Linked DNA regions of Homo sapiens: region 1 is linked to region 2. A link means that fine-mapping ties the variant in region 2 to the expression of a gene that starts in the linked region. Tissue or cell type: whole blood. Region 2 holds a variant in brackets; the other region holds the start of a gene. All regions are shown on one strand. Distances are from middle to middle.

Region 1 (5,000 bases), 81 kb before region 2:
ACAGCCAGGCAATGTGACATAGGCTAAACACTAAATGAGTGATTTGTTTCCCAAATTACACTGGATTAATTCACACACTTCAAGATAAGATACTATTATGGAATGATTTTTATATATACATTCAACCAACATTTCCTAAGGGCCCACTATATGCCAAGCAACCCGCTTAGCACTTTTCCAACAGTGTCTCATTCAATTCTCACATTTTATAGATTAAAGATGTGAATCTGAAAGGGTGAAGTGACTTGCCGATGTCTACATATTAAGCTGCAGAGACGGGATTTAGAATCATGTCTTCCAACTCCATGTCCTTTCATGGGACGTTTTTTGCTTTTTCATTCATCCTATGGAATACAATAAAGTGTTCTGCACAAATGAGCCACCACCAACTGCCAGCCTGATATAACTAGATGCTTATCTACATTCTGAGACGGGACCATATCAGATCAAATTACTCTGGTGCCTATTATAGATCATGTGCTGAAAGAAGTGCAGTTGGCTGAAGATGAGCAACTCTTTCAAGTTATATTTTAACAGTGTTTTTGACCACTATATCCGGTCAGTTGTTCCAGTGTTCAGTAATAAATCAAAATGATTGTTCGTTTCCTTTGACAGTTAACAGTACTAATGAATTCAGTATAATCTCACCATCCATCAGAAAAATTTCTAAAATGCGAACTTGAAGCTGATGATTCACACAGTTAGAAGAGAGGGGGAAATAAAGCAGTACTCATTGTTTTCTACAAAACTAGCATTGTTTGCAAAATCCAGAAACCAAGCAGTTGGTTAACTACTAATAACAAGCAGGTTGCTCCTTGGTCATTTAGCAAAAAGCTGCTTGTTGCACCACAGTCGATGGCTGAGAAGCATATGACTTCAAGTAGCTTTTGCTGTACAGTAGGATTCCATACATATAAATCAGTGGATCGTTATGTAAGACAAGAAAAAAATTCAAAATCTTCACACCAGAAAGCACCTGACACTGAGTGTGGCACAAATCCGAATAAATGTATACTGAGTAAACCATGTCAGGGTCTTTTGAAAATATCAGTTGTCTATGAAATTGAGAGAAGAAAAACCAAATCACCTGAATTCATACAGGTTATGTTAGGAACTCAAAAATATGGAACAGCTGGCTCAAGATGTATAACAGATTCACAATGACCAAAAAAACAATGTTTACAAATGTTGAATTAAGAAGCATGAATTTGACATCTCTCTTGAATTAAGTCACCACACTGGCACCCAATGGAATGCTTATAGGCAATCTCAGTAGAAATAACAAAAACTGAAAGAACTGACGGACAGAGCTAACTTTCCAATCTGTTCAAAACAGAAACAAGATGTACTAGTGGACACCTGAATCCTGCCGTTTAAGCTTTTGTGCCTTCACAATTAAATAATAACCCGGCCGGGCACGGTGGCTCACGCCTGTAATCCCAGCACTTTGGGAGGCCGAGGCGGGCGGATCACTTGAGGTCGGGAGTTCGCGACCAGCCTGACCAACGTGGAGAGGACCGCCCCCCCCACCCCGCCCCCACAAAAAATACAAAATTAGCCGGGCATGGTGGCGCATGCCTGTAATCCTAGCTACTCCGGAGGCTGAGGCAGGAGAATCGCTTGAACCCGGGAGGCGGAGGCTGCGGTGAGCCGAGATCATGCCACTGCACTCCAGCCTGAGCAACAAGAGCGAAACTCTGTCTGAAAAAAAAAAAAAAAAATCCCAATATGCCAAAGCAGCTCTGTCAAAAACCTTCAACGCTCACAAACATATCTAGTAATAACGAACGACTCATTAAAATGTACTATCTGTTCAGAGAAAAAAGTATTAATATATCTACAATACGAGACTGGGCTCCAAGAATATAAATCCAAATTGTACTGATTGGTCTGAATAAGCATTTTCCAAAATGAACAACCTGAACCTACACCACGAATACATTTAATTAGTTATAAAGCTTAGGACAACGCTAGTGATCTCAAACATTAGAACGTAAGCGCTGAAGCCTGCTCGTTAGTTCCTTTTACCTGGAGCTTTAAATTTCTAAAGCCATCATCTCCAGGGACCTCTGAAGGAAATTCAAGGCCAAGTATAGTATTTCATGATAAGTGAGAATAAAGGCACTCAATCCCTGGAGCCGGCGATTCCTGTTCCTGTCTCTAGACTGGACTCGGTAAAAGCCCGAGGCGAAACCTCCCGTTTATCTCCTACAGGACCCCAGCACCTTAGGGGATGGCTCCACAGAGCCCCACCGGGACCCCCCATCGCGGGGACCAGAGGGGCGGAGGAGGGAGACACTCTCCAAAACAAAGCGCCGCTCGCCCCACGCGGAGGCAGGCGCACCTTTCGCCCTGACAGGACGCAGACACACGTGTGTCACCTGTGCGGGAAGGGGGAGCAGCGACATCCTCGGAGGTGCGTGCCACGGGCAGCGGTCGGCGGCTGCGCTGGCCCCGATGCCTGGTGCCCGCCGCTCATTCCCGGGCTGGGGAAAACTTTCGGCCGCCTCCCCCAAGGCGCGCCCCCACCTCCCGGGACCCCCGGGGCACGCGCCCCGACCGCGACGCCCCGCCCCAGGCCCGCCCCTCCGCGCCCACGGCTGCGGCCCCGCGCCCCCAGCCCCGCGCGGGCACCCGCGTGCCCTCAGGCGCGCCCCCGCGCCGGGCCCGGCCGGCAGAGGGCGGGGTCGCTCACCAGTCCGCAGCTCGTGCTTGACAGTGAGGAGCTGCTCTCCTCCGTCGCCGCCGTCCGCGCTGGTCCCCGCGGCGCCGCCGCTGCTGCCACCCTCCTCCTCCATCTTCTCCTTTTTTTCCGATCCCGCGGGTCGCTACGAGGGGAACCCAGGAGACAGCGGACGCCCGTCCCCTCGCAGCCGCTGCCGCGGCCCCAGGAGTCGGGGTGCGGCGGCTCCAGAACTCGGACGCAAAGACGAGTCTCTTTCCCGCTCTGGCCGCACGGCTCGCTCCTCGCCTCCTCCCCCTTCGGCGGGCACCGCTAGTACCGCGCAACCAAACCGCCCCCTGCTCCACCGCCGCCTCCTCAGGCCGCTCCGCCCACAGCCAGCAAGGTAAGGGAGCCATTCGAGCCGCCTTCGCTGATTGGACACAGGGCGCGCGCGTCTGCCAACGCCGGTTCCCATTGGGCAGTACGCTGTGACGTTTCACGAGCCTCCCCGCCTCGCTCCTCGAATTGTTGTTGCTTGGCGGGGAGGCAGGAGAGGGAGGAGCGCCGCCACTCCGATTGGTGAGACCCAAAGCTCTGCCCCGCCCATTTCCTCTGGTGCGCACTCGCAGTCAAGACCTTCCCTTCCCTGACCTCCCCAGAACGGTCACACCCCTTATTCCCCAGCTTCGATCTGTTAGTAAACAGTGTCTAGTAGTCAGGAGGCGCTCGGGGTCTCTGATTGGCTACTGCCGAAAGAGGCGGGGAGGGATGATTGGAACGTTTGGTCCGCCAATCACCGTGGACAGAGGAGGGGCCTGGAGGGTAGCGCTTATCACCCACGTGTTTGCAGACAAACCTAAGGGTCCCGGCAGCGATCCATGCGTGTGTGACAACCAGCGAGACGGCGTGCCCTAAAAAGGTCTTACTCGCTCTAGTGAACCCTAAACAAGTTAAGCAGAGTGTTTGTTCTTAAATAACAGATAGTTCTTAAACGTTACAAAAATTCACAGTCCCAGCTCCCGATGAGGAATTTTACGAAGGAGAGACATTTCTGTTTCGTACAAGACTCTTACTAGGCGCCGAAAGGATGCAGAGATTAACAAAATAGAATACAATTCCTCCCCTAAGCAGCTTTCAATAGAACGTGAGAAACAATCTGTGTGTGTACACAAAAGAACTATAAAGCAGAATTTGAAATAAAGCAGTCGTACAAAGCGTTAGAGAATCTCGCACGGATGGCAATAATTATTCCCAGACGAGGAACTGGGGAAAGCTTTTAGGGCAAGGAGGCATTTGAGATAACCAACGTAAAGGATGGATAAGAGAGAAATACCAGCAATAGACATTCCACACAGAGAGAGTAACTGTGAGCATTGGCCTACAGCAGAGAAGGCAAGGGTGGGTTAAGTGATTGATAAGGTTAGATGAAAGTATGATGTAAGAGATACAGCTGACAAGGTGAGGTGTGGTAAGATAATGGGGAACTAGGGATGCTGTGCTGAAGAGTGCAGATTTTTTTTAGTACACAGTGATGAACTGAAAAGAGGAGAGAGATAGCAGGGCAGGAATCCTGCTGCAAGGATAGAACTAAAGGGAACCTGATTTCTAGTAGCAGACACGAGAATGGGAAAAAGCAGAAACTTAAAGATGTACAGTTGGACGTAATTCAGATAGATGTGATCTTTTAAACTAAGCATGGATTGGATCAGGAGTCAGCACACTTTTTTCTATTAAGGGCCAGATAGTAAATATTTTAGGATTTGCAAGCTGTATGACCTTTTTCACAACTACTCAGCTCTGCCATTGTAGCGCAAAAGCAGTCATAGACAATAAATAAAAGAAGTAGCTGTGTTCCAATAGAATATTTTTTATGGACATTGAAATTTGAATTTCACATAGTTTTCATGTATCGTAATATATTCTTCTTTTAATTATTTTTGAATCACTTAAAAATATAAAAACAGGTCAGGCGCAGTGGTTCACACCTGTAAGCCCAGCACTGTGGGAGGCTGAGGCAGATGGATCACCTGAGGTCAGGAGTTCAAGACCAGCCTGGCCAACATGGCAAAACCCTGAATCTACTAAAAATACAAAAAATTAGCCAGGCATGGTGGTGGGCGCCTGTAATCCCAGCTACTCAGGAAGCTGAGGCAGGAGAATTGCTTGAATCTGGCAGGCGGAGGTTGCAGTAAGCCGAGATCACACCATTGCACTTCAGCCTGGGCAACAGAGCGAGACTCTGTCTAAAAAAAAAAAAATATATATATATATATATATATATATATATATATATATATATATATATATATAAACAATCCTTAGCTCAAGGGCAGTT
Region 2 (5,300 bases):
CCCCAGTTCCACATGGCTGGGGAGGCCTCAGGAAACTTAAATTCATTGCAGAAGGCAAAGGAGATTTAAGCACCTCCACAAGGTGGCAGGAGAGAGTGAGCAAGAGGGAGGGGGGAAATGTCACAATTTTAAGCCATCAAATCTCGTGAGAATTCACTCACTGTCATGAGAACAGGGAAACTACCCCCATGGCCCAGTCATCTCACACATGGTCCCTTCCTCATCATGAGGATGATGATGATTACAATTTGAGATGAGATTTGGATGGGGACACAGAGCCAGACCATATCAGATGGGGCATGAATCTAAGTTATATTGGCCTTCGAGACCATGAGCTCAATCAAAAGTCAGCTCCTGAGCAGGAGCTCAACAAACTTTTAGGTAAAGAACCAGATATTTTAAATATTTTAGGCTTCCACGACACATGCATCTCTGTTTCTATTAGTCATTGTTCTCCAGAGAAACAGAACCAATAGGAGATACAGATATAGACAAACAGATTTAGTATAAAGAATTGGCTCACAGGATTATGGAGGCTGAAAAGTTCCACTATCTGCCATCTGCAAGCTGGAGATAAGGACTAAATTCCAGTCTGAGTCCAAAGGCCTGAGGACCAGGAGCACTGATGGGGCAAATCCCAGTACAGGGACAGGAAAAGGCCCAGCTCAGTCAGCCAGGCAGAGAGCAAATGCTCCCTTCCTCCTCCTCCTTGTTCTCTTCGAGTCCTCCGTAGACTGCATGATGACCACTGCCATTGGTAAGGATGGGATCCTCCTTACTCAGTCTACTGATTCAAATGCTAATTTCACCCCAAAACACCCTCACAGATGTACCCAGAAATAACCAGACCGGGCGTGTTGGCTCATACCTGTAATCCCAGCACTTTGGGAAGCCAAGGCAGGTGGATCACTTGAGGTCAGGAGTTTGAAACCTGCCTGGCCAACATGGTGAAACCCCGTCTCTACTAAAAATACAAAAATGAGCTGGATGTGGTGGCTTGTGCCTATAATCCCAGCTACTTGGGAGGCTGAGGCAGTAGAATAGCTTGAACTCGGGAGGCAGAGGTTGCAGTGCGCCGAGATCGTGCCACTGCACTCCAGCCTGGGCAACAGAGTTGAGGCTTTGTCTCAAAAAAAATGAAGTTTAACCAAATGTCTGTGCACCCTGTGATACAATCAAGGTGACACATAAAATTGACCATCACACTGTAAACCAAAAAGTACCTGAGACAGTTCTCAATCAATTTAGAAGTTTATTTTGCCAAGGTTAAGGACAAGCCCAGGAGATGGGTCTGTGCCTTTCTCCAAAGATGATTTTGAGGACTTCAGGATTTAAAAGGGGAGAAAGCAGGATGGAGGGGGAAGAGGGAGGCTGTGGTCACATGACTGAATCCCCATGTTGCAAGAGAAAGGGAGCAGGTAGGGGAATAGTAAGTCAGCACTCTCTGTAAGATAAGGTGAACATAGAGTAACTACCTGCAGAGATCTTTAACCTTTTATGTGTAGCTATCTGCTTAGGAACAAAAGGAAAGACAGATTCTTGCATGACTCAGCTTTCAGCTTCATTTTCTTCCTTCTGGCAGAGTGAACCAGGGTTCAAGTTTTTGTTTTTCCTTCACAATACTGTTGTTTCTCCTCTTCCCTTTCCTCCTCCTCCTTCTTCTCCTTCTTCACAACTCCTAAAAATGTAAAACCTATTCTTAGCTCACAAACCTTACAAAAAAGTTTGCCAGTTTGATTTAAACTGTCTCCCAAAATCTATGTCTCAATGACATGTTGTTGTTTCCTACAATATAGTGATGCTTGAGTGATTATCTAAAGAAAATAATTTATGGGTCGGGTGCGGTGGCTCAAGCCTGTAACCCCAGCACTTTGGGAGGCTGAGGCTGGCGGATCACCTGAAGTCAGGAGTTCAAGAGCAGCCTGGCCAACATGGTGAAACCCCATCTCTACTAAAATACAAACATTAGCCAGGCATGATGGCACATGCCTGTAATCCCAGCTACTGGAGAGGCTGAGGTGGGAGAATCTCTTGAACCTGGGAGGCGGAGGTTGGAGTGAGCCTAGATCACGCCATTGCACTCCAGCATGGATGACAGAGTGAGACCCCTTTCCAAAACAAACAAACAAGAAAATAATTTATGAAAGTCAAGAGCCTGATAAACAGTCACCACCCATTCGTAATCTGTGCTGCCACACCTCTAGCCAGCAGATCTGCCATCTTTTGAAATGAGTATCAACCTGGACATTCCCAAGTAAAGTGCCCACAACACCTAGGGGTTGTGATTCAAACAGCAATGGTTAGACTCAGGCTCTCTCTTGCTGCCCTCTCCTGGCTGGTCTATTGTTGAGGATCAGATGTGAATCCTGTAGGATTTCATGAGACTCAGGAAACCTTCAGGTCTGATTGCTGACCTGTAGACTTGTCAAAATTTCTACCAGTGGATAGTTCTTAAGGCTGGTCATGATGGCCGAGTTTGTCTGTTATTTCTTGTAGGGTGCTCCGACTTTCTTGAGTGTAAGTGTTATAGAAAAAGAATAGTTATCAGGCTGGGCACAGTGGCTCACACCTATAATCCCAGCACTTTGGGAGGCTGAGGCACGTGGATCACTTGAGGCCAGGAGTTCAAGACCAGCCTGGCCAACATGGTGAATCCCTGTCTCTACTAAAAATACAAAAATTAGCTGGGTGTGGTAGTTCCAGCTACTCAGGAGGCTAAGGCAGGAGAATCGGTTGAACCTGGGAGGCAGAGGTTGCAGTGAGCTGAGATTGCACCACTTCACTCCAGCCTGGGTGACAAAG[C/T]GAGACGCCATCTAAAAAAAAAAAAAGAAAAGGAAAAAAAGGAGTTATCGTATATTGAACATTTACTATGTGCCAAACACTGCTAAACAAATATTATTCCATTTCATCCTTAGAACGATCACATGAGATCCATATCCCTTGACTGTTCAGCATTACCTTCACACAGGTGATACAATGGATACTCAGAGAGGTTAATTTTTTTTTTTTTTTTTGAAGCGGAGTCTCACTCTGTCGCCAGGCTGGAGTGCAATGGCGCAATTTTGGCTCACTGCAACCTCCGCCTCCTGGGTTCAAGTGATTATCCTGCCTCAGCCTCACCAGTAGCTGGGATTACAGGCATGCACCACTGCACCCAGCTAACTTTGTAATTTTAGTAGAGATGGGCTTTCACCACGTTGGTCAGGCTGGTCTTGAACTCCCGACCTCAGGTGATTCGCCCGCCTCAGCCTCCCAAAGTACGGGGATTACAGGCGTGAGTCACTGCGCCCGGCCTTTTTTTTTTTTTCAGACAGAGTCTTGCTCTGTCGCCTAGGCTGGAGTGCAGTGGCGTGATCTCGGCCCACTGCAACCTCTGCCTCCCAGGTTCAAGCGATTCTCCTGCCTCAGCCTCTTCAGTAGCTGGGACTAGAGGTACGTAGCATCACGTCTGGCTAATTTTTGTATTCTTAGTAGAGACGAGGTTTCATCATGTTGACCAGGCAGGTCTTGAACTCCTGACCTCAGGTGATCCATCTGCCTCTGCCTCCCAAAGTGCTGGGATTACAGGCGTGAGCCATCGTGCCCGGCCAGAGAGGTTAATTAACCTGCTCAAGGATCACAGGTGGTAGAGCTGGAGCTTGGCATTCAGTCTATATTTATCTGACTCTAGAACTTGTGGTCTGAATTGCTACCCAAGGTTTACAATCATTTATGCAGAGTCTAATTCAGTAGGAATAGTGTGGTGCCAGAAATTTGCATTTTTGACAAGCACTCCAGGGTCCTGGAGAGCTACACTTTGAGAACACTTCCTGTCACAAATAGAAACTGCACGGCTTCCATTAGAAAGATGAAACTCTTTAGTAACAGAAGACTTATTCTGGGGTGGACCAAATGCTGGGCTTTCCCTCCTTCTTTGAGTAGAAGAGGAAGTTAGAAGAGGGTAATAAGATGCAAAGATTTCTTATCTCTTCCTGTCCCTCAGGCCTCCCTGCCCCCACCTAAGCCCCAGAAAAGTGCACCTCAAATGAATTTGCCTGAAGAGGTATAACATTGCCCTTTGCTGACAAACCCCTGAGCAAACATGTACTGGTTATTTGGTAACACTCAAAAGTCTAATCGTAGCTGGCCACGGTGGCTTATGCCTGTAATCCCAGCACTTTGGGTTGGGAGGCTGAGGTGGGCAGATCACCTGAAGTCAGGAGTTCGAGACCAGTCTGGGCAACATGGTGACACCCCATCTCTACTAAACACACACACACACACACAACACACCATCTCTACTAAACACACACACACACACACACACACACACACACACACACACACTAGCCGGCGTGGTGGTGCATGCCTGTAGTCCCAACTACTCAGGAGGCTGATGCAGGAGAATCACTTGAAATGGAAAGGCGGAAGTTGCAGTGAGCCGAGATCGTGCTACTGCACTCCAGCCTGGGTGACACAGCGAGACTCCCTCTCAAAAAAAAAAAAAAAAAAAAGGATCTAATGGCAGTTTTGGCAGTTCTTTTTTTGTTTTGTTTTGTTTTTGTTTTTGTTTTTTTTGAGACGGAGTCTTGCTCTGTCGCCCAGGCTGGAGTGCAGTGGCGCAATCTCGGCTCACTGCAAGCTCTGCCTCCCGGGTTCATGCCATTCTCCTGCCTCAGCCTCCCAAGTAGCTGGGACTACAGGCGCCCTCCACCACGCCCGGCTAATTTTTTGTATTTTTAGTAGAGACGGGGTTTCAATGTGTTAGCCAGGATGGTCTTCATCTCCTGACCTCGTGATCTGCCCGCCTCTGCCTCCCAAAGTGCTGGGATTACAGGCATGAGCCACCGCGCCTGGCAGCAGTTCTGAGGAACAGTTTGCTCAGGCTGTCAGATCTGGAAGTGTTCGTGGCTTGCTGAGCAGAGACAAGAGGACAAAGCCTTAGGTGTAATCTAAATACAACGGATTTGCAATGAAACAAGTGGCCTGGTCTCCAACCGTTTCTCCACACGCTCTGCCTTTCTGACAGCAAATCTATGTTTGGCAAGGAATGGGATGGAGACTTCTTCCCACCTGGTGGCCAATGTTTTCTTGAACCTCTATATCACCCTTCAGCTCCTGGGTGGGGTTGATGGTCATCCACAGAGAATGGGGGGACAATATACCTGTGAGGGCCCAGCCACTGGTCAGTGTTCAGCAGAGGAGAAATACAGTAGAGAAAGAGCAAGACTATGCCAGACATTGTGCTGGGTATTTGACTAACATGATTTAATCTTCCAATAACCCAGAGAAGTGTAGGGATTCCATCTTCATTTGCCACA

The links. PIP is the estimated chance that this variant, and not a neighbour inherited with it, causes the effect.
Region 1: it holds the start of RPS6KA5, and the variant in region 2 is fine-mapped to the expression of RPS6KA5 in whole blood (TOPMed, PIP 0.96).

Annotation. Positions count from the first base shown.
Region 1 is chr14:91,057,637-91,062,636 of GRCh38, forward strand. It overlaps RPS6KA5 (ribosomal protein S6 kinase A5), which reads right to left and starts at 3,005. Exons shown (of 17, transcript NM_004755.4): 1 at 2,696-3,005. The coding sequence starts at 2,798. It also overlaps a transcript of DGLUCY not described here. RefSeq lists silencers at 2,458-2,527, 2,598-2,727, 3,098-3,157, 3,378-3,507 and an enhancer at 2,735-3,315.
Region 2 is chr14:91,138,557-91,143,856 of GRCh38, forward strand. All of the region lies in intron 1 of DGLUCY (D-glutamate cyclase), which reads left to right. Among named protein-coding and RNA genes, the nearest start is that of SNORA11B, 15 kb to the left of the region's middle. RefSeq lists a silencer at 2,149-2,443 and enhancers at 3,580-3,679, 3,730-3,899. The variant C/T (reference allele first, on the strand shown) is at 2,803.